Linked DNA regions of Homo sapiens: all the other regions are linked to region 2. Evidence: fine-mapped expression QTL. A gene starts in region 2. Each other region holds a variant in brackets. All regions are shown on one strand. Distances are from middle to middle.

What was found. PIP is the estimated chance that this variant, and not a neighbour inherited with it, causes the effect. A credible set is the group of variants that fine-mapping cannot tell apart.
Region 1: its variant is the best candidate, but not a certain one, in a credible set for the expression of LINC02610 in whole blood (Lepik 2017, PIP 0.84).
Region 3: its variant is the best candidate, but not a certain one, in a credible set for the expression of LINC02610 in spinal cord (GTEx, PIP 0.52).

What each region holds. Positions count from the first base shown.
Region 1 is chr2:238,528,248-238,538,316 of GRCh38, reverse strand. The region is part of intron 2 of LINC01107 (long intergenic non-protein coding RNA 1107); the gene reads left to right. LOC124906130 (a long non-coding RNA gene) reads left to right here. Exons shown (of 2, transcript XR_007088215.1): 1 at 1-5,333; 2 at 6,341-8,536. Among named protein-coding and RNA genes, the nearest start is that of LINC01107, 22 kb to the left of the region's middle. The variant G/C (reference allele first, on the strand shown) is at 4,703.
Region 2 is chr2:238,225,562-238,235,630 of GRCh38, reverse strand. It overlaps LINC02610 (long intergenic non-protein coding RNA 2610), which reads left to right and starts at 3,954. Exons shown (of 3, transcript NR_026926.1): 1 at 3,954-4,297; 2 at 7,833-7,947. It also overlaps the pseudogene TARDBPP3. RefSeq lists silencers at 818-907, 1,058-1,187 and an enhancer at 888-1,389.
Region 3 is chr2:238,305,486-238,315,554 of GRCh38, reverse strand. No RefSeq gene overlaps it. Among named protein-coding and RNA genes, the nearest start is that of TRAF3IP1, 10 kb to the left of the region's middle. RefSeq lists an enhancer at 4-503. The variant T/C (reference allele first, on the strand shown) is at 4,087.

The sequences.
Region 1 (10,069 bases), 300 kb before region 2:
GCACTGCACCAGGAAGTGGCTTGCATGTTGCATCATCCCTGAGGTAGGAGCACTACACCAGCAGGTGTCTTGGATCTTTCCAGAGGTAGGAGCACTTCACCAGGAGGTATCTTGAATCAACCCTAAGGTAAGAGCACTGCACCAAAGGGGTCTTGGATCATCCCTGGAGTGGGGGGAACACTACTCCAGGAGGTGTCTTGGGTCATCCTTGAGGTGTGAGCACTGCACCAAAAGGTGTCTTGTATTATGCCTGATTGTATTATGCCTGAGTGTGAGCATTGCACTTGGGGGTGTCTTGGATCATTCCTGAAGTAGGATCACTGTCTCAGGGAGTGTCTTGAATCATTCCTGAGGTGTAAGGATTGTTACAGGAGATGTCTTGAATCATCAGAGGAAAGACCACTACACCAAGTGGTGTCTTGGATCATCCCTGAGGTGTGAACTTTGCACCCGGAAGTGTCTTATCATGCCTGAGGTGTGACCCATGTACCAGGAGGTCTCTTGTATCATCCCTGAGATGGGATCACACACCATGAGGTGTCTTGGATCAAATCTGAGGTGCAGACGCTGCACAAGGAGGTCTCTTGAATCATCCCTGAGGTGGCAGCACTGCACCAGAAGGTGTATTGGATCATCCCTCAGGTGTGAACACTGCACCAGGAAGTGTCTAAAATCATGCCTGAGGTGTCAGCACTGCACCAGGAGGTGTTTTTGATCATCCCTAAGGTGCAGGCACTGCACCAGGAGGTCTCTTGGATTATGCCTGAGGTTTGAGCACTGCATCAGGAAGTGTCTTTTATCATCCCTGATGTGTAAGCATTGCACCAGGAGGTGTCTTGCGTCATTCCTGAGGTGTGTACACTGCACCAGGAGTTGTTCTGCATTATTCCTGAGGTCGGAGCACTGCATCACAAGTGTCTTGGATCGTGCCTGATGGTGCCTGACCAGCAAGTGTCTTAACTCATCCCTGAGGAGGGAGTACTGTAACAGGTGTCTTGGATCATCCCTTGGAGTGCAGCACTACACCACCAGGTGCTTTGAATCATCTCTGAGGTGTGAGCAGTGCACCAGGAAGTGTCTTGTATTATGACTGAGTGTGAATACTTCACCAGGTAGTTTTTTGGATAATTCCTAGGTGTGACCGCTGCACCAGGAGGTATCTCGGATCATGCCAGAGTTGTGAGCACTGCATCAGGAGATGTTTTGGATCATCCCTGAGGTGTGACCACTGGACCAGGAGGTGTCTTGGATCATGCCTGAGTGTGAGCACTGTACCAGGTGGGTTTTTTGTATCACCCCTAGGTGTGAGTACTGCATCAGGAAGTACCTTTGATCATGTATGAGTTGTGATCACTGCACCAGGACATGTCTTAAATCATATCTGAGTTGTGATCACTGCACCAAGAGGTGTTTTGGAGCATCCCTGAGGTGTAAGCACTGCACCAAGAGGTGTCTTGGATCATGCCTGAGTTGTGACCACTCCACCAGGATATGTTTTGGAACATACCTGAGGTGTGAGCACTGCACCAGGAGGTGTCTTAGATTATGCCTGAGTGTGAGCACCTCACCAGGATGTACCTTGGATCATGCCTGAGTTTTGTGGGCACTGCACCAGGATGTGTTTTGGATAATCCCTGAGGTGTGAGCACTGCACCAGGAAGTGTTTTGTATTATGCCTGAGTGTGAACACTGCACCAGGTGGTTTTTTGGATGATTCCTAGGTGTGACCACTGCACCATCATCATGCCAGAGTTGTGAGCACTGCATCAGGAGATGTTTTGGATCATCTCTGAGGTGGGATCACTGTACCAGGGGTGTCTTGAATCATCCCTGAGGGGTGAACACTGTGACAGGAGGTGTCTTGAATCATCCCTGAGGTAAGAGCACTGCACCAGGAGGTCTTTGGATCATCATACCTGAGGTGTGAACATTTCACCCAGAAGTGTCATATCATGTCTGAGGTGTGACCCATGCACTAGGAGGTGTTTTGTATCATGCCTGAGTTGTGACCACTGTACCAGAGGGTGTTTTGGAACATCCCTGAGGTGTGAGCACTGCACCAGGTGGTGTCTTGGATCATCTCTGTAGTGTGAGAATTACACAAAGAGGTGTTTTTAATCATCCCTGGGGTGAGATCACTACACCAGGAATTGTGTTGGATCATGCCTGAGTGTGAGCACTGCACCAGGAGGTATTTTGAATCATGCCTGAGTTGTGAGCACTGCATCATGAGGTGTTTTGGATCATCCCTGAGGTGCAAGCACTGCACCAGGGGGTGTCTTGGATCATCCCTGATGTGTGAGCACTGCACCAGGAGATGTCTTGGATCATCCCTGAGGTGTAAGCACTGCACAAAGGACTGTCTTGTATTATTCCTGAGTGCAAACGCTGCACCAGGTGTCTTTTTGGCTCATTCCTAGGTGTGACCACTGCACCAGGAGGTATCTCAAGTCATGCCAGAGATGTGAGCACTGCATTAGAAGATGTTTTGGATCATCCCTAAGGTGTGAGCACTGGACCAGGAGGTCTCTTGGATCATCCCTGAGTTGAGAGCACTGTTCCAAGAGGTGTCTTGGATCATGCCTGAGTGTGAGCACTGCACCACGTGGTTTTTTTGGATCATCCCTAGGTGTGAGCACTGCACCAGGAGGTATCTTGGATCATGTCTGAGTTGTGATCACTGCACCAGGAGGTGTCTTAAATCATATCTGAGTTGTGAGCACTGCACCAAGAGGTGTTTTGGAGCATCCCTGAGGTGTGAGCACTGCATGAGGTGGTGTCTTGGATCATCCCTGTAGTGTGAAAACTGCACAAGGAGGTATTTTCCATCATCCCTAAGGTGGGAGCACTACACCAAGAAGTGTGTTGGATAATGCTTGAGATGTGAGCACTGCACCAGGAGGTGTCTTAGATCATGCCTGAGTGTGAGCACCTCACCAGGATGTACCTTGCATGATGCCTGAGTTGTGTGGGCACTGCATCAGGATGTGTTTTGGATCACCCTTGAGGTGTGAGCACTGTACCAGGAATTGTCTTGGATCATCCCTGAGTGTGAGCACTACACCAGGAGGTGTTTGGGGTCATCCATAAGGTCTCAGCACCGCACCAGGTTTCTTGTATTATGCCTGAGTGTGAGCACTGCACCAGGAGATATTTTGAATCATGTCTGAGTTGTGAGCACTGCATCAGGAGGTATTTTGGATCATCCCTGAGGTGTGAGCATTGCACCAGGAGGTGTCTTGGATCATCCCTGAGGTGTGAACATTGCACCCAGAAGTGTCTTATGTCATGCCTGCAGTGTGAGCACTGCACCAGGATATCTAGGATCATCCCTGAATTGTGAGCACTAAACCAGGAGGTGTCTTGATTCATCCCTGAGGTGTGAGCACCTCACCAGGAGGTATCTTGGATCATCCCTGAGATGTGAACACCTCACCAGGAAGTGTCTTGGATCATGTCTGAGTTGTGAGCACTGCACCAGGACGTGTCTTAAATCATCTCTGAGGTTTGAGCACTACACCAGGAGGTGTCTTAAATCATGCTGAAAAGTGACCACTGCACCAGGAGGCATCTTGGATCATGTCTCAGTTGCAACAGGAGGTGTCTTGGATCATCCCTGTGGTATAAGCACTGCACCAGAAGGTGTCTTGGATCAACCCTGGGATGGAGGCAGTGCACCAGAAGGTGTCTTGGATCATCCCTGATGTGGGAGCACTGCATCAGGAGATCTCTTGGATCATCGCTGAGGTGTGAGCACTGCACCAGGAGGTATCTGGAATGATTTTTGAGGAGAGTGTAGCGCACCAGGAGGTATCTTGGATCTACCCTGAGGTGTGAGCACTGCAACAGGAAGTGTCTTGGATCATCCCTGAGGTGTGAGCACTGCAACAGGATGTGTCCTCAATCATCCATGAAGGGGGATCACTGCACCAGGAGGTGTCTTGTATCATTGCTGAGGTGGAAGCACTGCACAAGGAAGTGTCTTAGATCAACCTGACTTGTGAGCACTGCACCAGAAGGTGTCTTGGATCATTGCTAAGATGCAAGCAATGCACCAGCAGATGTCTCAGATCGTCCTTTAGGTGGGAGCGCTACACGAGGGGTGTCTTGGATCATCCCTGAGGAGGGAGCACTACACCAGGAGGTGTCTTGGATCATTTCTGAGGTGCAGGCACTGCATCATGAGGTGTCTTGGATCGTCGCTGAAGTGTAAGCACTGCACCAGGAGGTGTTGTGAATCATCGCTGAGGTGTGAGCACTGCACCAGTAGGTGTCTTGGATCATCCTTGGGGTGTGAACATTGCATCAGGAGATGTCTCAGATCATCCCTGAGGTGCAGGCACTGTACCAGGAGGTATCTTGAATCATTTCTGAGGTGCAGGTGCTGCACCAGGTGTCTTGAATCAGCCCTGAGGTGTGAGCACTACACCAGGAGGTGTCTTGATTCATCCCTGAGGTGTGAGCACTGCACCAGGTGTCTTGATTCATCTCTGAGGTGTGAGCACTGCACCAGGAGCTGTCTTGAATAACTTCTGAGGTGTGACCATTGTACCAGGAGGTGTCCTGTATCATCCCTGTGGAGGGAGCACTGCACCAGAAGGTGTATTGGATCATCCCTGAAGTGTGAACACTACATCAAAAGGCATCACGAATCATCCCTAAGGCTTGAGCACTGCACCAGGAGGTGTCTTTGATCATGCCT[G/C]AGATGTATGCACTGCACTAGGAGGTGTTTTGGATCATCCCTAGGTGGGAGCACTACCCCAAGAGGAGTCTTGGATCATCTTTGAGGTGGGAGTACCACACCACGAGGTGTCTTGGATCATCCCTGAGGTGGAAGCACTGCACCAGGAGTTGTCTTGGATCATTCCTGAGGTGTGAGTACTGCACCAGGAGGTATCTTGTATCATCCCCGAGGTCAGAGCACTACACCAGGAGATGTTTGGATCAAACCTGACATGTAGGCACCGCACCAGAAGGTCTCTTGGATGATGCCTGAATTGTCAGCACTGCACCAGGAAGTGTATTTTATCATCCTTGAGGTCAGAACACTGCACCAGCAAGTGTCTTGGATTCTGCCTAAGGTGTGAGCACTGCACAAGCAGTTGTCTTGGCTCATCCCTAAGAAGGGAGTACTGTGCCAGGGGGTGTCTTGGATTATGCCTGAGTTGTGAGCACTGTATCAGGAGGTGTCTTGGATCAGCCCTGAATTGTGAGCACTGCACAAGGAGGTGTCTTGGATCATCCCTGAGGTGGGAGCACTGCACCAGGAGGTGTCTTCAATCATCCCTGAGGTGTGAGCACTGCACCAGGAGATGTCTTGGATCATCCCTGAGGTAGGATCACTACACCAGGAGGTTTCTTGGATCATTTCTGAAGTGTGAGCACTGCACCACAAGGTGTCTTGAATCATCCCTGAGGTAGGACCACTACACTAGGAGATGTCTTGGGTCATCCCTGAGGTGTGAGCACTGTACCAGGAGGTGTCTTGGATCATCCCTGAGGTGCAGTGATATGGTTTGGTCATGTCCCCACCCAAATCTCATCTTGAATTGTAGCTCCCATAATCCCCACATGTCATAGAAGGGACCCTGTGGGAGGTAACTGAATCATGGAGGGAGTTACCTCCATGCTGTTTTCATGACAGTGAGTGAGTTTTCAGATCTGATGGTTTTATAAGGAGCTTTTCCCCCATTTACTTGGCACTTCTCCTTCCTGCCATCCTGTAAAGAAGGATGTGTTTACTTCCTTCCACTTTGATTGTAAGTTGTTTGAGGCCTCCTCAGCCCCACAGAACTATGAGTCATTTAAACCTTCTTTCTTTATAAATTACCCAGTCTTGGGCAGTTCTTTATAGCAGTGTGAGATCAGACTAATAAACACCCCCATGATTTAATTACCTCCCACCAGGTCCCTCCCATGACACATGGGGATTATGAGAACTACAATTCAAGATGAGATTTGGGTGGGACACAGCCAAAACATGTTATTCCATTCATGGTCCCTTTAAAATATGTCCTCACATTTCAAAACACAATTATGTACTTCCAACAGTCCCCCAAAGTCTTAATTCATTCCATCATTATCCCCAAAGTCCAAATCTAAAGTCTCATCTGAGACAAGGCAAATTCCTTCGCCTATGAGCCTGTAAAATCAAAAGTGAGTTAATTACTTCCAAGATACAATGGAGATACAGGCATTGGACAAATACACCCATTCCAAATGAGAGAAATTGGCCAAAACAAAGAGGCTCCAGGCCCCACCCAAGTCCAAAATCCAACAGGGCAGTAACCAAACCTTAAAGTTCCAGAATAATCTCCTTCAACTCCATGTCTCACATCAGGTCACGCTGATGCAAGAGGTGGGCTCCCATGGCCTTGGACTGCTTCACCCCTGTGGCTTTGCTTTCACAAGATGGCATTGAGTGTCTGAGGCATTTCCAGGTGCACAGTGCAAGCTGTCAGCGGATCTACCATTCTGGGGTCTGAAGGACGGTGGCCCTCCTCTCACAGTTCAACCGGGCAGCACCCCCATGGGGACTCCCTGTGGGGGCTCCAATCCCACATCTCCCTTCTTCAATGCCCTAGCAGAGGTTCTCCATGAGGGCTTTGCCCCTACAGCAGACTTCTGCCTGTACATCCAGGTATTTCCATACATCCTCTGAAATCTAAGCTGAGGTTCCCAAACCTCAATTCTTGACTCCTGTACACCCACAGGTCCAAGACCACGTGTAAGCCACCAAGGCTTGGGGCTTGCACCCTCTGAAGCAACAGCCTGAGCTCTATGTTGGCCCCTTGAGCCACAGCTGGAACTCACTATCACCAAATCCCTATACTACACAAAGCAGCAAGGCCCTAGGCCTAGCCCGTGAAACCCTTTTTTCCTCCTAGGCCTCTGGGCCTGTGATGGGAGGGACTGCTGTGAAGAACTCTGACATGCCCTGGAGACAGTTTCCCCATTGTCTTGGTGATTAACATTTGGCTTTTCGTTACTGATGCAAATTTATCTAGCTGGCTTGAATTTCTTCTCCAAAAATGGGTTTTTCTTTTCTATCGCATCATCAGGCTGCAAATTTTCCTAAGTTTTATGTTCTGGTTCCCTTTTAAACATAAGTTTTAATTCCAAACCATATATTTGTGAGTACATAAAACTGAATGCTTTTAACAGCACCCAAGTCACCTCTTGAATGCTTTGCTGCTCAGAAATTTCTTCTGCCAGATACCCTAAATCATCTCTCTCAAGTTCAAAATTCCACAGATCTTTAGGGCAAGGGCAAAATACTGCCAGTCTCTTTGCTAAAATGTAGCAAGAGTCACCTTTATTCCAGTTCCCAAAAAGTTCTTCATCTCCATCTGAGACCACCTCAGCCAGGACTTCATTGTCCACATCACTATCAGCATTTTGGTCAAAACCATTAAACAAGTCTCTAGGAAGTTCCAACTTTCCTGGAAGACATCTTCCTGTCTTCTTCTGAGCCCTCCAAACTGTTCCAACCTCTGCCTGTTACCCAGTTCCAAAGTCACTTCCACGTTTTTTAGTATCTTTATAGCAGCGCCCCACTACCCAGTATCAATTTACTGTTTTATTCCATTCTCATGCTGCTATGAAGAACTGCCTGAGACTGGGTAATTTATAAAGGAAAGAGGTTTAAATTACTCACAGTTCTGCAGGGCTGGGGACGCCTCAGGAAACTTACAATCATGGCAGAAAGCAAAGGGGAAGCGGGCACGTCTTCATGTGTCTGGAGAAGGAGGAAGAGAGCAAAGAGGGAGGTGCCACACACTTTCAAACAACCAGGTCTCCTGAGAACTCATTCACCATCACAAGAATGCAAGGGGGAAATCTGCCCCCATGATCCAATCACCTCCAACCAGCCCACTTCCCCAACACTGGGAATTACAATTCGACATGAGATTTGGTTGGGGACACAGAGCCAAACTATATCAGTGCTTAACCTCATTTGAGTTGTCACACGCAACCAGGAGGCTTGAATAACCCACTGCTTCCAGACTAGATGGCTTTCTGTGTGACCCCAAGAGAGACTCCCAGCCTCTGCTGATTCCTATGTAAAGTATGGGTTGGAACTGGATGGTATCGTAGGTTCCTTTAGCTCCGTATGATTCTCATGTAAAATTCCACCCAGCAGTCAGGCAAGAGGTGCACTGGGGAGAGGAGGTGGAACCCCCAGGTTGTTGATAAAATCCTGAAATCCCTTGGCTCTGTGCTTCAAACAGCCACCTTCCCAACATCTATGACTCTTTGAACTGCTCATAAAGAGCGCTGATTAATGTGACACTTCACATGCCCACCATGAAATTAGGAAGGCCCTTAGATCTCCTTCAAACCCGCGGTGCCGGTGCCTTCGCCCCATCAATCAGAGATGAAACTGTGATTGTGCTGCAAGGAGACGAGGCCATCCTGGAGTTCTGCCATGAAAGAATCGCTGGGACTCAAAGGAGGGGAAAACAAGGGAAGGAGAGAGGGGGAAAGGGAAAGAGAAGCTGCTTCCAGAAGGAATAAATTTGTGTGTGTACTTTGATCCTGCTATGATTTTTATTTGTTTTAGCCACATCCTTTTCACTGCACCACTCAGCTAAAGGTGCTTTAAATTAGATGGCGCTAGGAAACCCTCTTCCTCCCCCCTTCTTCCCCTGCCTGCCACGCAGGCCCACAGTCTTCAGTCAGTGTGAGATGTATAATCATGTCATGCTCAAATGTAACTGGAATAAATTGAGACAAATAAACTCAAAGGCACCACATGCATTTAGAATGCTCTTTGTCAGGGTTTCCTAATATGCTTGCAGGCAGCTAACTCAACGCAAACAAAAAGTGGCAGTGTTTACCCAGCTTTGCTTTGGAGCATGTTGAGAGCCTCTGACTCACAGATCGCTGCTGATTGAATCTGCACATACATTGGTGTTCACTGTCCCCCAGCTAACTTCCTTCCCTCTTCCACACTCCTCCCTTTCCCAGGTGTCCAGGCTGAACAGGGACTTGTTTGGGGTCCTCTGTTCCTCTCCTCTACCTGTCTTCAGTAGGATAGCACAAAGATCACAAAGGCCTTGAGAGCAGAGATGGGAAGTGAGAACCGTGTCTCACTGTGAGGACCCCAGGACCTTTGTTCAAACAAAGCAAAGCAGCACCTGGCATGGCCGGCCCGTTCTGCTCAGCGTTCAGGAGCGAGCTGCCTACCAGAAACCTCCTCTTTGGTGCTCTTGTTAAAAAAGATGCCTCAGGGCACCTTTAAGGGAAGATCTGAAATGAACCTCTTACCTTCTAAAACCTTCTTTCTTGGCCAATCTTGTTCCATGACCGGCCACATGGCTGTGGATTTACTGGCTCTCTGGACCCTCACCCTCCCATCAGGGTGCCATCTTATCCATGTCTCTGATTGAGGGACACACATGTCAGCTCTCTGCTCCTGCACTGCCAGGCACAGCCATGATGGTCTCAGAGCCATTGGTCCCCAGCACAGAGGGGAGCTTCAAATGGTACCATGATGATGAAGGTGGTAGGTGCCTAGTAGCTACGGACTTTGGATTATATCCATTTCCAATGATTAACAAGAAGCCCCTTTAATTTTAAGCATGTACTTTTTATTCAGAAATAAGGTCCCACTCTGGCACCCAGGTGGGAGTGCAGTGGTGCCGTCATGGCTCATTGCAGCCTCAACCTCCCAGGCTCAAGCGATCCTCCCACCCCAGCCTCGCAAGTAGCTGGGACTGCAGGTGCACCATCATGCCTGGCTAATTTTTTAAATTACTATTTTAATAGAGATGGGGTATTGCTATGTTTCCAAGGCTGGTCTCAAACTCCTAACCTCAAGTGATCCTCCCACCTCAGCCTCCCAAAGTGCTGGGATTACCGACGTGAACCACTGTTCTGGACCAAGTATGTACATTTATAAATAACACCCATTTTCCTGTGATTTCCTTAGCTTCACTCTATGAACTGCTAGCTTGTCATGCCTCCCTGTCATATTCTCTGACAGTTTCCAGCCTTATGCCCCATGGGTGTCTCTCTCTCTCTCTGTCTCTCTCTGCTTTCTTTAATTCCTCTTTGGCTGCCAAGA
Region 2 (10,069 bases):
CTTCTCCAGTCTCAAGGGCACCACACCAGCCTTCTTTCTACCTCATCGGCCATCCTCAGTCCCCTGTACTCAATGCTCCTCCCTGCCGACCTCCAACTGGACGTGTTCTTCCCAAGGCTCTGTCCTCAGCCTTCCCTGCCGCCCTCCAACTGGACGTGTTCTTCCCAAGGCTCTGTCCTCAGCCTTCCCTGCCGCCCCCACACCCAGTGACACCATCTGGCCCGTTTTGCCAATCCCATGCCCTTGATTCAAAGCCCCTCTCCAGGCGGCTGGCTCCTCTGTATCCTCCTGTCCACTCAGTGACTGCACTTAGATGTCAGATGGGCTCACACCACCACCAAAACAACAGATCCTCAGGCATTACCACTTCTTGGTACCCCATGGATTGAGCAAAAAAATCTAGATGTCACCCTCAAGTTCACCCTCTTCCTGCCATCCCACGTCCTATCAGTCAAGCCCATGAGCACTACTTCTTCTTCTTTTTTATTTTTATTTATTAATTTATTATTATTATTATTATTTTGAGACGGAGTCTCACTCTGTCGCCCAGGCTGGAGTGCAGTGGGGGAGATCTAGGCTCACTGCAACCTCCGCCTCCTGGGTTCAAGCAATTCTCCTGCCTCAGCCTCCCAAGTAGCTGGGACTACAGGCGCCAGCCACCACGCTCGGCTAATTTTTTCTATTTTTAGTAGAGACGGGGTTTCACCGTGTTAGCCAGGATGGTCTCGATCGCCTGACCTCGTGATCTGCCCGCCTAGGCCTCCCAAAGTGCTGGGATTACAGGCGTGAGCCACCAAGCCCGGCGGAGCTCTACTTCTAAGCCCTGCCTCCACGTGTCGTCTTCTTTGCCACCGACCGAGTCCAAGGCAGCCTCGTTTCTAACCTGGGCCTCCGCAGCAGGCCTCTGACTCCCCTCCCACTCCAGTCCTGACCGTGACCTTCAAGACTCTACCCGGTTCAGCACCGCCGCCCCCCGGGGCTCCTCCCTTCCAGCCCTCCCTACGCTCTGCTCAGGCCTCTGCAAGTGACCCGAGAGCCAGGACCCGGACGGTCTCGATCAGCCAGTCGCCCAGCCCTTGAGCCCTTCCGGGACTGCCCGGAGCCGGCGCTGGGGAATACCGAGTCCCTTGGAGCCGGGTTCGGGGGGCGCCGTGAGCTGGGAGGCGCTCGGAGGAGCCGAGGCCTTGACCACGCCCCCTCCAGCCCCGCCCCGCCAGAGGCGAGCCGCGGGGCCTCCTGGGAGATGTAGTTCCGACCCCTTTACTTAGATTTTTGGTTTTTTTTTTTTAAATCAGTTTTATTTAAGAATTTCCAACAATGACAACTCTTATAAAAAGCATCCAAGCACAGGACACAGAACTGCAGCAAACAGCATTCTTATGGGTAGCTAACAGACATTAGAACTTCTACCCTTCTTTGAGACACCAGAGTTCACTGCTGAACTCTGCTTCCAAGTCCTCCTGCAAAGCACACCACAAGCTCAGTCCATGTTCTCAGCCCATCAGCTTCAGTTCACATTGCCACACTTACATATCAGTAACAGAAGAGAACACACACCATACAGCATTCACAGCAGTTGACAAAGGGGTAGGGGGAGTACAAGTATCATTTCACTTAACACATTCAAATAAAGTGGGTTATCTAAGAACAAAAACTCAAAGTCTTCCAACAGATGTGGATGTCCTTTGAATGCAAAAAACATTCGTACATTATTTGCTATCATTGCTGTCTGCACACTGTCACCAAAGCCGCAGGATTGAGAAACACATCTCGCCAAGTTAAAAAATATCCGTTATGCACCACCAAGTCTCTGCACGTGCTCTCTCCTTTTCTCACTCATACTAGCCTTTCATGCCTCAGCACCACCGTCAATCCCACACAAGGTTTCAAAAGTTCAAACAGCCTTCTAGTTCCATATCACAGCCTTGCGTTCACAGCGTTGATACGACTCTATGAAATAAAGAGTAGCAGATAAAAATGGGACACCCACCGTCAAAGACGCGGCCTGTGATGCGTGATGACGAATTCTTGAATGAGAAGGCATGTAGACAGAAGTGTTCCTATGGCAGAATATTTACAGCACTACTTTCAACCAAGTGCTTCTTCCATAAACATTTGAAATGAGATGAACTGCAGAGATTAAATGAAGGCTTCATATTGTACTTTTGTGTTTGAGGGGAGACAAGTGTTAAAAAACAAAACAAAAGAACCAAACTGTGACACCATGATCTTCTAAAAGGAGATTTTCTTAAGGAAAAAAATCCATATGGTGGGGTTCAAATTAAAACAAGGAATAAAGAATGTAGTTCTAATTCATGGCTTCCATTTTGAACATGCAAAGAACTCACTTGACAAGTCCAGGGATAAAATATTACAGGAGAAACCTTCTGATATCAATTGTAGTGTGTTGGTTTACCAATCAGGCAAACAGCAGTTCACTTTCAACCACTCAATATTTCAACCTTTCATGTAACAAAACTTATAAAATTCCTTTAGCTGTTCCTTTTTCTAAAGAAAAATGTCAAAAATACTACTGAATATACTCCACACTGAAGAAACCAATTTTGAAAATTCTTAGTACATATGTATTTTACAATATACTTACCATGAGTTTAGAAAAATTTGAATTCCAACCATTCTATACCAACCAACCACAACCCCACTGTCTACGTTCCCAGCCAGAAGACTTAGAATCCATGCTTGAGCCAAAGCCGCCATTAAAACCACTGCCCGACCCTGCATTGGATGCTGATCCCCAACCAATTGTTGCACCAAAATTAGAACCACTACAAGAGTTATTTCCAGAACCGAAGGCCTGGTTTGGCTCCCTCTGCATGTTGCCTTGGCTTTGGTTATCATCCGATGGGCCTGGCTGCTTCGCTGGCTGGCTAACACACCCATCGTACACCAACTGCTCTGCAGCACTGCCTGGGGGGCAGCCATCATGGCTGGATTAATGCTGAACGCACCAAAGTTTATCCCACCACCCATATTACTACCTTGATTGTTTCCCAAACCAGCTCCACCCCCTCTACTCTTACCAAATCCACCCTGATTCCCAAAGCCACCTGGATTACCACCAAATCTTCCACTTCTTGCTGTCTATTGCTATTGCGCTTGGGTTCGGCATTGGATATGTGAACGCTGATTCCTTTCATCGAGTCCTCTCCACAAAGAGACCGCGCAATCTGATCATCTGCAAATGGAACAAAGGCAAAGGCCCTGAACGGCTTGGGGACGAAGACATCCATCACATCCCCATACTGAGAGAAGAACTCCCACAGCTCATCCTCAGTCATGTCCTCCGTACGGCGCCCCACAAACACTTTTCTGCTTCTCAAAGGCTCATCTTGGCTTTGCCGCACCATAAGAACGTCTCCAAAGGTACTACAGTACTCTTTCAGGTCCTGTTCAGTTGTTTTCCATGGGAGACCCAACACTATTAAATCGGACTGGTCTTTTCACTTTCACTGCTGATGAAGCTTCTGTCTCACCCATTTTTCTTTTGTTATCTTTCGGATAGTTGACAACATACACCGGATTTCTCCAGCCAGCATCGGGGGCATGCAGAATTCCTTCTACCAGCCGGACACCTCTCATACATTGAGACACCGGATTCCTGCAGCGAAGCCCACACGCCCCTGGAAACTGGGCTGTAACCGTGGACAGCAGCACCGTCCCATCGTCTTCCGATGGTATTTCAATGGGCTCATCGTTCTCATCTTCGGTTACCCGAATATATTCAGACATCTTTTACTTTTCCACTAGGCCGCTGCTGGGAAGCCCGACAGGGACACCGAGGCAGCGACGGACCCAAGCGCCAGTGTTTTTTTGTTTGTTTGTTTTTTGTTTTTTTAAAGAGGCCACCACAAGTTGAGGCGGGACTACAACTCCCAGAGGCCGCCGCGGCCCGGAGGCCACGCCCCTTGGCGGCGAGCTCTGAGCCCTTTGCCGCATTTGACACTCGACATCCTCGTGCTTCTTAAAGCACTTGCCCAACGGTGAGCAACGGCCTCCAACGGTGCCCGAGGGACTCGCGCTGCCCGTTAAGCAGCTTTGCGGTGGCGGAGGCTGGGCTGCCGTCTCTCCGACATCCCGGGACGGAGGAAGAGATGAAGGCTCTGCAGCCCCCGCCGCCCGATTTACGCTTGAGAAAGCGAAGGCGAGAGAGGTCGTCCAGCCCCTGGGGGCCCAGCCCTAGAGAGCGGGGCGCGGGCTGCGGGGCCCGGCGGCCTGGACGGCGGAGCGTTGAAAGCTCCCCCAGGGATAGGAAGTGCAGCCGAAATCAACGATTGAGGTCAGTGAAGGAGCGGACGCTTGAGGCCTTGGAGGGGAAGCAGGTTTCTCCAGGAGGGAACCCGGGCCTCCGCTTTGCTCAGCGCTCCCCTCGCGAATGTGTTGAGCACCTGTTATGTGCTGGGGGTACAGAGGTGAGACTCACAAGGCCCCTGCATTGTCTTTAAGATCAGCAAGACCCCGCAGAGAACCCAAATCCAACGCGCACTGCCCAGAGGCAGACACTGGCATTCCTTGATAGACGGTAGCCAGGGAAGCCCAGGTCTTACTAGATTATTATCAGTACTTGGATTTGAATGTATCTGAGAGGAGGAGGGTTAAGGTTTAAGCTGTGGCTCAGAAGCCCCTCAGCTCTTCGTGGAATCTCCCAGGCTTTTCACTCTTGCATCCTCATGGAAAAATACTGCCCTCCCTGGGAAACCATGCTTTCTGTGCACACCTGCTCTGTTCCCATGTCGCTGTACTACCTATTGACCTGTCAATGGATGATGACACTTGGGGTACTATCCTCTCTCCTCCAGATCTTGCCCCACCTTAACCTTGAAAGAATATTAAATGCGCCCTTAGACGTCAGGAACCATCCCTCAAACCTTGCCATTCCTCTCTGTTGAACCTGCTCCAAATCTTAAGTGCCAACCTCCATCTTATCCACTTTATCCTGGGGAACTTGTCCTCACACCCCGTTGAGGTTTCTTACTTATTGTCCTACTGTTTTCTTCACACTCCAGTTTCTTAAAAACAGTCTTCATTCTCATTTTCTTCATTTCCTCATCACCTGTTTGTCCCTAACAAAATTTCAGTATGGCTACATTTCCTGCCATTCTACTATAGAAAACTTCTGCCAGAGTCTCCAATGAACTCCTGATTGCCGAGTAGACTCTTCAGTTTTCTCACCCGAACTTTGCGGCATTTGATACTCAACATCCTCATGCTTCTTAAAACATTGTTCTTGCCAGAGCACGGTGGCTCACACCTGTAATCCCGGCACTTTGGGAGGCTGAGTTAGGCAGATCGCTTGAGCCCAGGAGTTCAAGACCAGCCTGGGCAACATAGCAAGACTCCATCTCTACCAAAAATGCAAAAAATTAGCCAGACATGGTGGCCCGCACCTGTAGTCCCAGCCACTCGAGAGGCTGAGGTGGGAGTATCACTGGAGCCCGGGAAGTCAAGGCTGCGGTGAATTGAGATCACGCCAGTGTGCTCTGGCCTGGACAATGGGAGTGAGACCTTATCTCAAAAAATTGTTCTCTGTCTAGTCTTCTTGCTCTTCTTGTTCCACCATTCCTTCTCAGGTTCTGGCAGTGGCTCTTCACAACTGGATATTAAATGTTGTCTTTTTTTTTTTTTTTTTTGAGACAGGTTCTCACTCTGTCTCAGGCTGGAGGCTGGAGTGCAGTGGTACGATCATGGCTCACTGCAACCTCGACCTCCCAGACTCAAGTGATCCTCCCACCTCAGCCTCCTAAGTAGCTGGGACTATAGGCGCACATCACCATGCCTGGCTGATTTTTGTATTTTTTTTGTAGAGAGAGATGTTTGTAGTGTTGCCCAGGCTGGTCCAGCAATCCACCTGCCTCACTCCCAAAGTGCTGGGGTTATAAGCATGAGCCACCGTGCCCGGCGAATATTGTCTTCTTAAATATTGTGCCCCACATTTCTTTGCTAGGCCCTCTTCTCTAGCTTCTAGGCTGTAATCTGTATGATCTCCATGGCTTCACCTGCTGTGCTACCAGCTGCAAAATCTATTTCCAGCCCAGCCCTCTCTGGAGCTCTCATAGAGTTTATCCAAATGCCCCTGGCTGTCGCCTCTCAGGAATCCCACAGGTTCTGCAACAAGTTCAAATGTGAACTCAGCTTTCCAACAAAACCTGCTCCTCCCTTCATGTTCTGGATCCTTCAGAGCAACAAGGGCATCAATCCTTCAGGCTGGAAACCAGACGGTCCATGGAGACACCTCCCTGGAGCCCTGCCTGGGCAACCTTGACCTCCCAGGTTCCAGGGGACACTGGAGCCCTGCAGGTAGCGTCCAGGAACTGGCAATCCTGCCACTTCAACAGGTTGAACGAACAAGAGGATGAGTCTTAGACGTCCCTTTCCCCCTGTCCGGCTCCTGCATTCGTAGTTCAGGTTCTTGGCTGTCACCTGGAGAATGGCAGTGGTCATTAAGAAAACCCCCACCTTGAAGGTTACGCCCTGAGCTTCAGTCTTTTCAAAAGCCCAACACTGCAGATTCTCAAAGAATAGTAGGCCTGGTCCTCACGTGGGCCAACTCAGAACTTACTGACTGCCTCCACACCCCCTCCACCACCTTCTGTCTCCATGCCCTTGCCAGATATTTGGTTTGCTGCATGGCCAAAGCCGCTGCTCTGCCCTCTGCATGCCTCCAGGTTTGGCTCAGATAGACTGCCTGCCTGAAGCCTTTCCTGGTCACTCCTCGTTTTATGCAGTTTCCAAGGCTTCTTTTATTTCCCTGACGGCATAGTCCAGATAATGTTTGCTTGTTCATTCCACAGTTGTTAACTGGAGGCCTGCTCTTTGTCAGGCATTCTTCTAGTTGCTGGAGACAGACAGCATTTCTTCTCAAGTTTATGCTGTTATGGGCAGTTAGGCTGTTGGGTTGTTGTTGTCTTTTTTTTTTTTTTTTTTTTTTTTTTTGAGACAGAGTTTGTGCTTTGTTGTCCAGGCTGGAGTGCAGTGGCACGATCTCCGCTCACTGCAACTTCCTCCTCCTGGGTTCAAGTAATTCTTCTGCCTCAGCCTCCCAAGTAGCTGGGATTATAGGCGCCCGCCGCCACACCCAGCTAATTTTTGTATTTTTAGTAGAGACGAAGTTTCACCATGTTGGCCAGGCTGGCCTCGAACTCCTGACCTCAGGTGATCCACCTGCCTCAGCCTCCCAAAGTGCTAGGATTACAGGCGTGAGCCACCACGCCCAGCCTGTTGTCTCTTGATCCTTGAATACGCAGTCTCTGTCTTGTCTGTATTCCTGCCTCATATTTTCTCTCTCCTGCCTCTTTATCTCTTAAACCGTTGTCTCTTCATCCACATCATGGGAATGGCAGTAGTACCTACTTGTTTTGAGGGTTGAATGAAATAGCATGGAAAGCCGTTTTCTCAGTGCCTACTGTTGGTTGGAATTCCCTTTCTCTTTGTTTCCACCTCGTTCTCTTTGCGTCTTCATCCTCCCCTGCCTTCATATCCTTCTGTTCCCCATCTCACCAGCTCTCTCTTCCTCTCTCTGGCTCCCTTCCTCTCTCCTCTCTTCCCTGTCTCTCTGCCTCTCTCTGTTTCTTTCATTCTCTCGTCCCTGTTTCTGTCTCTTCCTCCAACCCACTTTTGCTGGGCTTTCCCTGCCTCTGCCCCGCCTTGCCTTCTTTGTCTTTCTCTAGCCTCCCTCTGCCTCTACCTCCCTCTCAGACGAGAGCAGGTGACTCCCCTGATGCTTCCTGCCCCTTCCCTGGTAGTGGGTGTGGAGGGGGTGACTGCCCAGCTTCTGCAGCGCCAGCGACTTCCTCCACCTTGTTCCCGCCCTGCAGGGTCTGAGCACCTCCCTCATGCAGACAGAGCCCCGGCTCCCATGTTCACCATGCTGAGAAAGACCTGCGGGGGACAGCAGGAGGACAGCCGGGGAATGGGCCCGCACTTGCCCAGGTGAGTGCTGTGGGGAGTCAGGCCAGCCCTGTGGAGAAGGCCGCTGGAAAGGGGGAACTGATGCTGCCATTCCTTATAAAAAGGGCCACCCAGTCCATGTAGCTGAGGACCAGCACCAGGCAGGATCTTTAATGGGACTCTGGGCTTTGTTAAAGGGCCACAGGCTTGTTTAGGGAGGTGGGGACAGAGTCAGGAGGGAGAAGTACCACTTCTCCTGGGAGCGGCACATGGCATGGAACAAAATAGCCCTGGGGCACGCCCTGAGCCCAGCCCTAGTTTTCTAGCTAAGGATCAGGTGAGAACCCCCAGACCTCTAGCTCCTCTCAGGAGGCTGGCTGCTGGCTGGTTCCTCTTCCAGAAGTCCGTGCAGATCCTGTCCTCTGGCTTTGCCTTGCCTAAGACCCAGTCTGCACCAAGGCTGAGTCCCTGGACTTCTGGAGAGAGAGGGCTGTCCCTTTGTGCCCTACAAGTACAGTGTGTGGGCGCCTCCCCTGGGCCCTGCACAGGTTCTGTGGCACCGGCAGCATGCGGGAAGGTGGGAGGAGGCACACCCTGCCTTTGGGAAGCTGAGAACAGATCCCTGGGGGCAACCTGTGCCCCTGTAACCAGGAGGAGTCTCAATAGGAAATTTTAGCTGCTCCTGGTGGAGCAGGGCCTCTGTCTTAAGGAGAGTGGAATTTCCGAGGGACAGACATTTCCTGACCATTTGTGTATAGGAATCAAGGCAATGAGAGAACAATCAACAGGGCATGGGAGATGAGAAAAAGGTGAGATGACCTCTGACAGGCAGGCTCCTGAAGGAAGGCTTCCTGGAGGAGGTGGCATGTGAGCCCTGCAGGACAGGTAGAGGTTGGAGGATGAGACAGAGGAGGGGGCCTTGCCTTTCAGACCCCAGGCGCCACCATGCTCCCCATCTTGACTTGGGAATTTCCCAGTGACAGGGCAGGAGTGAAGTGCAGGGCCTTCCCACTGCTGGGAATTTGGCTGTGTTGGCGCGTGGGGTCTGCCCTGGGGCGCGTGCTGCCTTCGCTAGCTTCACCCCATTTCCCTCTCTCCCCTTCTTACCATCAGAGGCAGAGCTCGTGCATGCCCGACCTCGCTCCTCACGGCTCCCTGGGCAGCAGCGCCCTGGCAGTTGGAACTGGAAGGCTTATCAGAGTCCACGCAGCCCCACCGCCCTCCCCACTCTCGGGGGTGGGCATCGGGGGACAGGGCCAGGGCAGGGAGGAAGACAGGGCCCGGCTCACCCCACAGCTCAGCCCATGAGGGTGCGCAGAGCAGGGCTGGCAGGAGTGGGCCACTCCACACCCAGCCCTGTTGAAGAGAAAGAACAGAAATAGGGAACAGAAAGTTGTCGATTGCTGTGTAACAAATTGCCCGCAGTTTAGTGCCTTCAAACAAACGTAGCTGCACAGTGTCTGTGGGTCAGACATCCAGGCCCGGGGAAGGAGCCTCTGCCTCAAGGTCCCTCCCGAGGCCTCAGTCAGGGCCCGGCCGGACTGTGAGTAGATTGCACGCTCCGTGCGGGGAGGCTCGGCTTCTCTGCTGGCCCCGCGCCTGTGGGCAGGATTCAGTTCCTCATGGGCTATTAGAGTGAGGGCCTCGATCTTTTCTGCTGTTTGGCTGGAGGCCTCGCTCAGTTCTCTGCTGCACGGACCTTTCCTTGGCACAGCTCCCGCATAGCTGAGCAAGCCGCGAAGGCGGGCTCCTGCAGCCGAAGGGAATTCTCCCCTGTTTCTGCTGTGTTCTGTTTGTGTAGGTTCAGCCCCGGGGAGGAGGTTCCACAGGACAGACAGACCAGGAGTTGGGGGCGTTGAGGGCCATCTCACAGGCTGCCCACCACAGCCCCCACGCAGCCACCTGTGTCTGTGTTCTTGCCACTGTCCCTACCCTCCAGGAGTGGGTCTGGTCTCATCAGGGAGGGCAGCGCTCTCTTCACTCTGTCCTTACTCTGGTGTTTCACTGTGATTTTAAAAACTGAAACTGCACTTGTTACCCCTTGACAGAGCTGCACCCTGAGAGGGCCTCTGCGACGCCCCTCCTTCTCTTAAGCCTTTCCAAGCTGTCTGACGATTTTTAAATCCCATTTCCTGAGTGACACAGAGCATCTTTTCTTAAGCTT
Region 3 (10,069 bases), 80 kb before region 2:
CTCCTGCTCCCAGGTGTTAGAGAGAGGGCGGTCATCTTCACAGGATGACAGGGCCCTCCAGGGGTGCTGCACCAGATGCAGGTGATGCTGTGGTGGCTGAAAGCGGGAGAGTCTTCCCAAACTGGAGGAAGCCCGGCTGGGCCGCCTTCCCTGATCTGCCCACCATGGCCAAGCTGGGAGCCAAGAGGCTCCTGCAAGGGCCCATCCGTCTCTGAGCTCTGAGCTGGCTGGGGTCAGCCTGAGCAGCGGTGGAAGGAGCACAGAGACCACAAGCGCCCTGCCTTCGGAACAATGTTCCCAAGAGCAGAGCTCCCCGGCCCCCGCCCCAGAAAGTCCCATCTGGGCAGTATCCTCCTCTGGGCCTGATGGCCAGAAACCCGCTTGTCTGACAGTGGCCAGCCTGAGTGGTGGGAGAGGTAGGTGTGGCCTGGAGAACACTTGGGCCCCTGAGGTTCGGACCCTGAACCAGTGCTGCTCAAAGGGGAAGCTGGTTCCTATCTCTCCCCCAGCCTATGGAGAGCAGGAGCCGTGTGGGCCAAGGCCTTGTGGAGGCCTTGAGGGCACAGGGCCTGGCTGTTTGGAACTGTGAGCCATCAGAGACCCTCCTGCCCACCTGGGCATCAGGAGCTCTGAGAAGATCTGGGACAAGGGAGCAGAGTCACCCAGTCCCACCGAGATCCTTACGGAGGCGGGGAGGTGGCCAGGGAGTGGACATGCGTCCCTGGACAGTGCAGTGCTTGAGGAGCATGGACTGTCTTCCATGCCACCCACTGTGTCTCATGAGGCCCCAACACTGCCTCAAGGTGAGTCCTCACCCTCTGCACAGAGCGGGAGGGCGGATGGGCATCCGGGGTGCTTGGAAAGCAGGCCTAAGAAGAGGCAGCTAAGGATTCCTGACTCCAAGAAAGAGACCTGCAACCAGGGCCTCCCAGGGCAGGAGGGTGCAGAGGGCAGCCTGAAGCCTCCAGTTCTAACGGCTCCAAGCCAGGTACAAGGTAGGAGGGACGATGTACCCTAAATTACCCCTAAGCTTCTCAGAGTCCTAAAAGCATCAGAGGGAAAGGCAGAGAACATAAAAAAGAGTCATTCATAAAAAAAAAAAAAAAGATAATTGATTAAACAACTATAGAAAATCACAGCAAAGAAAGTGTTGGAAACATAAAAGGCTGGCAGGAGATGTTTTGAAATGAACAGTTTCTGAATGAATGATAACCATGGCCCTGACTCGCTCCAGGAGAGAGAAGCCACAAAGCTTCCAATGTGTCTTCCAGGCCCTGCCTCCCCTCACCGGGAGGCAGACATTCCCAGAGACAAAGGCCTGGGGAGGCTGACTTGGCCCCACCCTGAACTCCATTTCTACCAAGAGCCCAAGATGTGGGTCAGGCTTTGGGAAGGGCTGGGGAGCAGATACCAGGTCAGAGAAGTGCAGAGCTGCAGATGGGCTCACCAGCCCTGGATCCACAAGGAAGTGGGGTGGGGGGTCACTATGGAGCAAATGCATGTCCACTGGGCAGAGACAGGGGAACTAGGCCCAAGAGGCCCAGCAGAAACAGAGTTCCATCACAAGCAGGAAGTGTTTGCTGTGACTGTCGCATCTGCTTCCCCAGCTTGGGGTACAAAAGAAGGTCCCCCACCTTTCTGAAATCCAGCTCAGATATTCTCACCCCCCGACCCCCGTCACTGAATCTTTATGTCTGCCTTGTGCAAGCTGGACGGCCCTCTGGGTCCCACAAAGGGTATGGGGGTGCAATACATAGCGAGCAGACCATAATACTTGGAGCTCTCCCCCATGGGCAGTCCGAGGGAAAGATTCACTACCCTCCCTCTCACAGGCCCTCAGGCCCTTCCAGGAGGGTCCCATGACTTTGAAGGGGCAGGGGCCTGGGTCCCATCATCCACCAAAGGCCTCTGAGCCACCCATGCCAATTTCCCAACAATCTTAAGCTCTGCTGGTAAGTAGCCACTCTTGGGTGAGGGGTGTAAGATTCTGCCTCCCCAGGCAGCCCAAGACACCCTTCCTTTGCCCCAGTCAATGCAAAGATGACACCAGGAGGGTGGAGCTGGGGAATCCTGCACGCCACAGGCCCCAACCACATCTGAGAAGAGAGACCACCATGAGTAAGAAGTTTTCAGGTGTCTCAAGGGAGCCCCTACTTATACTCCTGGCAGATACTCTCCACTCTGATTAAGTTACACAGAGCACGTTTTATTATTTTTGTAATTTAGTTTTATATTTTTGCCATGTCATTTATTTTTTCTTCCCCTTCCCTGCAGCTTTACAAAGGTATAATTGGCAAATAAAAATTGTATATATTTACAGTGTACAAAATGATGTTTTGATTTATGTATATATTGGGAAATGATTAAAATAAGCAAATTCATATATCCATTTCCTCTCATCTTTTTTTGCAGTGAGACCGTGTAAGATCTCTCTCAGGAATTTTCAAGTATATAATTAATACATTATTACTAACTACAGTTACCATGCTATACATTAATCTCCAGGATTTACTCAGCCTGTCCAACTGAAATGTTGTACCCTTTAACCAACATACCCGCATTTCATACACACAAACACTCCCCAGTCCCTGACAACCACCATTCTACTCTCTGCTTCTATGAGTTCAACTTTGGATTCCACATATGAGTTGAGATCATGCAATATTTGTCTTTTTGTTTCTGGCTTCTTTCTTTCTTTCTTTCTTTCTTTTTTTTTTTTTTTTGACATGGAGTCTCGCTCTGTCGCCCAGGCTGGAGTACAGTGGTGTGATCTCAGTTCACTGCAACTTCTGCCTCCTGGGTTTAAGTGATTCTCCTGCCTCAGCCTCCCAAGTAGCTTGGATTACAGGTGCCCGCCACCACGCCTGGCTAATCTTTGTATTTTTAGTAGAGACGGGGTTTCACCATGTTGGCCAGGCTGGTCTTGAACTCCTGACCTCAAGTGATCTGCCTGCCTCAGCCTCCCAAAGTGCTGGGATTACAGGCGTGAGCCACTGCACCTGGCCAGCTTATTTCATTTAACATAATGTCCTCTATGTTCATCCATCCAAGAAAAGGACAGAATTTCCCTCTTTAAGGCTGACTCGTATTCCATGGTGTGTAAATCCCACATTTTCTGTATTCCATTTATTTGCTAATGGACACTTAGGTTCATACCATGTCTTGGCCATTGTGTATAATGCTGGGATGACCATGGGAGTACAATTACCTCTTTGACATACTGATTTCATATCCTTCAGGCATCTACCCAGAAGTAGGACTGCTGGATCATAAGGTAGTTCTATTTTTTGGCCAGGCACAGTGGCTCATGCCTATAATCCCAGCACTTTGGGAGGCCAAGGCAGGCGGATCACTTGAGATCAGGAGTTCGAGACCAGCCTGGCCAATGGAGTGAAACCCCGTCTCTACTAAAAATACAAAAATTAGCCAGCCGTGGTGGCATGCGCCTGTAGTCCCAGCTACTCGGGAGGCTGAGGCACGAGAATCACTCGAACTCAGGAGGTGGAGGTTGCAGTGATCTGAGATCATGCCACTGCATTCTAGCCTGGGCAACAGAGTGAGACTCAGTCTCAAAAGTAAATAAATACATAAATAAAATAAGGTAGTTCTATTGGTAGTTCTTTGAGGAACTTTTATATTGTTTTCAATAATGGCTGCGCTAATTCCCATCCCCACCAACAGTGTATGGGGTTCCCTTTCTCCATATCCTCACTGACATTGTTATCCTTTGTCTCTTTGATCATAACTTTCTCCCACATGTGAGATGATAATGACTTGTGGTTTTAATTTGCCTTTTCCTGATGATTGGTAATATTGAGCATTTTTTCATATGCCTGTTGGCCATTTATCTGTGTGCCTTCTTTTGAGAAATGCCTATTTGAGTCCTTCACCCATTTTTGAATTGGGTTATTTGTTCTCCTCGCCATGGACTTGTTTGAGTTCTTTATATATTTTGGATATTAACCCTTTATCAGATGTATAATTTGCAAATATTTTCTCCCATTCTGCTCATTGTCTCTTCACTCTGCTGATTGTATCCTTTGCTGTACAGAAGCGTTTTAGTTTGATATTATCCCATTTGCCTAT[T/C]TCTGCTTCCACAGCCTGTACTTTTGGGGTCCTATTCAAAGAGTCATTGCCCAGACCACTGTCAAGAAGGTTTTTCCCAATGTTTTCTTCTATGGTTTTATAGTTTGGGGTCTGAAATTTAAGTCTTTAATCCATTTTGAGCTGATTTTTGTATATGGTGCAAGATGAGGGTCTGGTTTCATTCTTTTGCATATGGATCTAGTTCTCCCAACACCGTTTATTGAAGAAATCATCATTTCCCCAATGTGTGTTCTTGGCATTTTTTTTTTTTGAGGCAGAGTGTCACTTGCCCTGCGTCCAAGACTGGAGTGCAATGACACAACCATAGTTCACTGTAACCCCAAGTTCCTGGGCTCAAGCAATCCTCCTACCTCAGCCTCTGAAGTAGCTGGGATTACAGGCGTGTGCCACCATGCTCAGCTAATTTTTTGTCTGTTTGTTTTTGAGATGAAGTCTCGCTCTGTTGCACAGGCTGGAGTGCAGTAGTGCGATCTCGGCTCACTGCAACCTCCACTTCCTGGGTTCAAGCGATTCTCCTGCCTCAGCGTCCCCGAGTAGCTGGGACTACAGGCATGTGCCACCACGCTCGGCTAATTTTTTTGTGTTTTTCGTAGAGATGGGGTTTCGCCACATTGGTCAAGCTGGTCTCAAACTCCTGACCTCAAATGATCCACCTGCCTCAGCCTCCCAAAATGCTGGGATTACAAGCGTGAGCCACTGCGCCCGGCCATCAGCTAATTTTTATTTTTTTTTGTAGAGATAGGATGTTGCTATATTGTCTAAGCTGCTCTTGAACTCCTGGGGTCAAGCTATCCTCCCACCTCAGCCTCCTAAAATACCAAAATTACAGGTGTGAGCCACTACCTCTGGCCTCTTGGCACTTTTGTTGAAGGTAAATTGACTGAGCCCTCCAACCTGAAATATCCCACCTGCCACTCCCTGAAAGCCTGCAGTTGACTCCCACTGACCCCAGGAGTCCTCCTCCAAGCTCCGGCGGTGCTGTCCAGCTCCCCCTGGCCCATGCTTAAACAAGGGCATGACTTTCCCCAGCTAGTGCACAAGGTCCAGGAAGGCTGGGACAGGGTCCATATGTCTCCTCAGGGCACCCCATGAATACTGGCTGCATGAACGTGTGGGTGCCTGAAGGAGGAAGGAGGAAGTCTTTAAAAAGGAGTGGCGCAGCCGGGCGCCAGAAACAAAACCTGGCCAGGCGCAGTGGCTTACGCCTGTAATCCCAGCACTCTTGGGGGACGAGGCGGGCAGATCACGCGGTCAGGAGATCGAGACCATCCTGGCTAACACGGTGAAACCGCATCTCTACTAAAAATACAAAAAATTAGACGGGTGTGGTGGCGGGCGCTTGTAGTCCCAGCTACGCAGGAGGCTGAGGCAGGAGAAGGGCATGAACCCGGGAGGCGGAGCTTGCAGTGAGCTGAGATCATGCCACTGCACTCCAGCCTGGGTGACAGAGCGAGACTCCGTCTCAAAAAAAAAAAGGCGTGGCCCTCTCAGCTATGGCTGCCTTGGCCCTGTGGTGGGTGCTGTGCCACTCAGGGCTGAGGCCCACACTGCCCCAGCTGCCAGAAGCAGTGATCCCTGTGGGCTCACAGCCAGGTTCCCTTCTGGGGAGACTTAGCCAAAGGGGCCTACTGTGCCTCCTGCTCCCTATGGGCACCCGCATTCAAGGGCTGATGGAGTTGGGGGTGCAAACCCAGTTTCCCAGAGATCTCTACCCAAGAGAGTTGCTCTCAGAAGTGGTCAGAGGAAATGGACCCTAAATTGAGATTTCGGAGCTGAATCACCACTGACCGGCTCAACTGAAGCCCCCAGGGTGGGCGTGAGAGACCACTGTCTCAAAAACAAACAAACAAACAAACAAACAAACTAGAATCCCCAGATTCTCCTGAATCATCTGGACCTACAGAGGAGGCCCACTGCTCCTGTTAAAGGCTAGCACCCCCTTTCTTGAAGTGTTTTATATAGAGAGAATGTGTGTGTTATAGTTGGGGGGCGGGGGGAGAGAGAGAGAGAGATGTCTGCCTTGCAAGACAATGCATGCGTTTTTCAGGATCTATGCCAATATCCCCCTCCTGACACCAGACCAATCATGAGGGTCAAACAACAACATAACCTAGCTAGGACATGCTGGCCTGCTAAGGGAGGGAGGGACTCTATTCCGAAGGAACTGCAGGATCTGCCTAGCATGGACCAGCAAGATCCAGGAGAGCACATCCAGGACTGCATCCCAAGAGTGCTGGACCCAGCAGGGGACAGAATATAAAGACGGATAAGACAAGAGTTGATGAATGTGGGAGGACTTTCCGTGATAGAAGCTTGTGACCCTGGCTGGGTCCCAGGGAGACAGTGCTAATGGGCTGTTAGAATGGCTCTTGGACACCTGCAAAGAGCTATGGCCTTCACTAAGTGAAGGAAAACTTCCAGCCCCACCATGGAGGATGGTAGGGAAATGAGCCTACTAGAGCACATACGTGATGTTGGGCCAGCAAACCTACCAGCCCACTGTGTCCTGTGAGAGGGCTCGGAGGTCACTTCATTTACCAAAGTGACAATATTTGGCATGTAATATTGGTTTTTATAGCCAAGAGTGGCAAGGTCAGAGTGGTAGCCAGGAAGACCTGACATGCAGAGAGCTATGCGGCCGGATAATACAACAAAATGTTCCTAGGGACCAGGGGAATGAGCAGTCAGCAAGGGTGTGGCCGAGCTTTCGAAACTAAAATAAATCAAACATGGATGAGCAGGAGGCTGAGAGTGGCTGCCCCAGTCCCCCGCTACAATCCCTTGCCTGGTTTTGGACCTAGAACTCATTGAAAGGCCAGGTTCCCAACATCACTGCCGGTGCAGGGAGCCAAAATCTCCCCCACAGTCCTTCCCCAAAGAAACCTAAGGCCACTCATTCAAGTAACTATACACAGGGAGGGGGAATACAGAACCATTTCAAGGACTATTGCACACAGAATCCTGGGGACATGGAGCATCATCTTGACTCCTGTTAAAGGGAGGGCATACGGGGTCAGGTGATAGAGCCCTAGCCCCACTTTGGATTTTGGTAGGTCCACAGGGTCCATGGAGCCACCTGGTGGTCATTTCCCGAGCCCTCAAATGCAATGATTGAAGTGGACACACTTGGCATATGGGGTAACCCCATGTTGGCCAGATACTTGGGATTGTGGAATAAGAGCTATAGACCTGGGAAGCTGAGTGGGAATCCCTGACACTGCCCCTCCCCCAGCCAAGACAGTAAATAAAAACCAATATTGCATGCTGAAGAGAGTTACAGCAATTATAAGGGACGAATAGATTCCACTGTTAAAACCTGAAGGATGCAGGTATACTTTCTCCCCATTATAGAGTCATTTAATTAGCCAAACCCCTGCAAAAACCACATGGATCCTGGGGATTGACAGTGGAATACTGCAAACCCAAACAAATAGGAGCCCCAATTGTGGTATCTTTGCTATAGCAGGTCAACACAATCTCAAGTCCATGGTAGGAAGCCAATACATTCATTTCCATCCCTACTTAAGAGGAGAACCAGAAGCCGCTTACATTCATTTAGGATGGATAAGAGTACACATTGGCTGGGCACGGTGGCTCACACCAATAATCCCAGCACTTTGGATCTGAGGTGGGCAGATCATCAGATCACCTGAGGTCATGAGTTTGAGACCAGCCTGGCCAACATGGTGAAACCCCATCTCTACTAAAAATACACAAAATTAGCCGGGTGCGGTGGGCGCTTGTAATCCCAGCTATTCAGGAGGCCGAGGCAGGAGAATCGCTTGAACCTGGGAGGTGGAGGTTGCAGTGAGCCGAGATTGCACCACTGCACTCCAGCCTGGGCAACAGATTGAGACTCCGTCTTAAGAAAACAAAAAAGAAGAAGAAGAAGAAGAATACACACTGATTGTCTCACCCCAGGGCCATATTAACTCTTTTCCCTCTTTCCTAATATAGTCTGGATGGACCAGACACTCTGCACAATGCTGCACTGGTTCAGTATACTGATATCCTATTAATTAAACTGGATGACCAGATTGACGAGGAGAAACCTCAGAGGCCTTATTAAGGTGCGTGTGCTGCAGAGGGTGGGAGAGAAACCCTGTGAAGTTCCAGGCGTCTGCTGCATCGGTGAAGTTTTTAGGGGCCCAGTGGTTGGAGCTTAACAGGCATCTCCACAGTGAAGGAAGGACTACATTGTGTACTTCCCACCACTAAGAAGGACCACGAGGACTGGTCGCCTCTGTGGGTTCTGGAGGCAGCACGTGCCACACTTGGGAATACTGCGTGGTCACATTTACCAGGTGGTGTGAAAGGCTGCCAGCATGGGGAAGAACGCTGCAGTGGGCACAGGCTATGGTGCTAGCAATCCAGCAAATTAGGCCAAATGATCTGGAAGATGCTATGGTTCTAGAGATACCTATGGTGGAAAAGATGCCTTGTTGCTTTAAATCTCTGAGTGTGTGATAACTTCATGGCAAACCCCCAGTGGGAGAATCACAACCTGGACCCTGGGGGTTCTGGAGTAAGGCCACGCTATCTGCAGCAAAGGAAGACAGATGCTGGTATGCCTCTGCACCCTAGCAGAGCGGAAGACACCAAGCGGTGATCACACCACTAGAGCTGCCTGCCTTGAGCCGGGCTCTGCCAGGGCCTCCAGGGCATAGGTCAGGCATGCTCGACAGAAATCTATGATAAGATGAAAGGGCACATCCAGCACTGGGCTTATGCAGGGCCAGAGCCACAGATAAACTGCACAAGACCCTCCTATCATCTGCCTCTGTTGCACCACTGGAGGTCCCTCACCTTCATCACTGCTGTGTTGGGTGGCGGTGTCACTTATGACCACCTAGTGGAGGAAGAAATAGGCCGAGCTTGGTTCATGCATGGGTTGGCTCAGTGTGGGATGCAAAAAATGCCTAAAAATAGATAGCTGCTGCACTGCAGCCTCACTCCGGGGCCTCCCTGAAAGGCAGTGCTGACAGACTGCCTCTCCCAATCTCCCCATGGACAGAAACTTGGTGTATTAGTTCATTGTTGCTGCTGTAACCAATTTCCAAAAACTTGGGAGTTTAAAACAACACAAATGGAATCTCTTACAATTCTGGAGGTCAGAGCTGAAACTGGGTGTTACTGGGCTGAAGTCAAGGTGTGGTCAGGGCTGTAATCCTTCTGGAGGCTCTAGGGGAGAATCCATTTCTTCTCCTTTTTCAGCTTCTAGAAGCTACCTGCATTCTCTGGCTCATGCACCCTTTCCAGAAACGACATCATTTTAACGTCTGTTTCTATGGCCACGCCTTCTTCTCGGACTTTGGCCCTCCTGGCTCCCTCTTCCACTTTTTTTTTTTTTTTTTTTTTTGAGATGGAATTTCGCTCTGTTGCCCAGGCTGGAGTGCGATTGTGCGATCTTGGCTCACTGCAACCTCCACCTCCTGGGTTCAAGTGATTCTCTTGCCTCAGCCTCCCGAGCAGCTGGGATTACAGGTGCCCGCCACCAGGCCCAGCTAATTTTTTTTGTATTTTTAGTAGAGAGAGGGTTTCACCATGTTGGTCAGGCTGGTCTCGAACTCCTGACCTCAGGTGATCCACCCGCCTCAGCCTCTGAAAGTGCTAGGGTTACAGGCGTGAGCCACCACACCCGGCCTCCCTCTTTCACTTATAAGGACATTTATGATTACATTGGGCCACCCAGATAATCCAGGATAATGTTCCCATCTCAAGATCCTCAATGTAATGACATCTGCAAAGTCCCTTTTACCCTGTACCAAAACAGATGTACAGGTTCCAGACATGGGCGTGTGTGGGGGCCCACCGTTCTGCCCACCATGCTTAGGCAGTACACGTAGCTCTCCATTTTGTGTAGAAAGAGAAGTGGCTTGGCATAAGAATATGTTCAGACCCATGGACAGCGGCAAAAGACGGCTGTTGCTGCTCTGGGCCTGGAAAATTCAAAGGTTGGGGA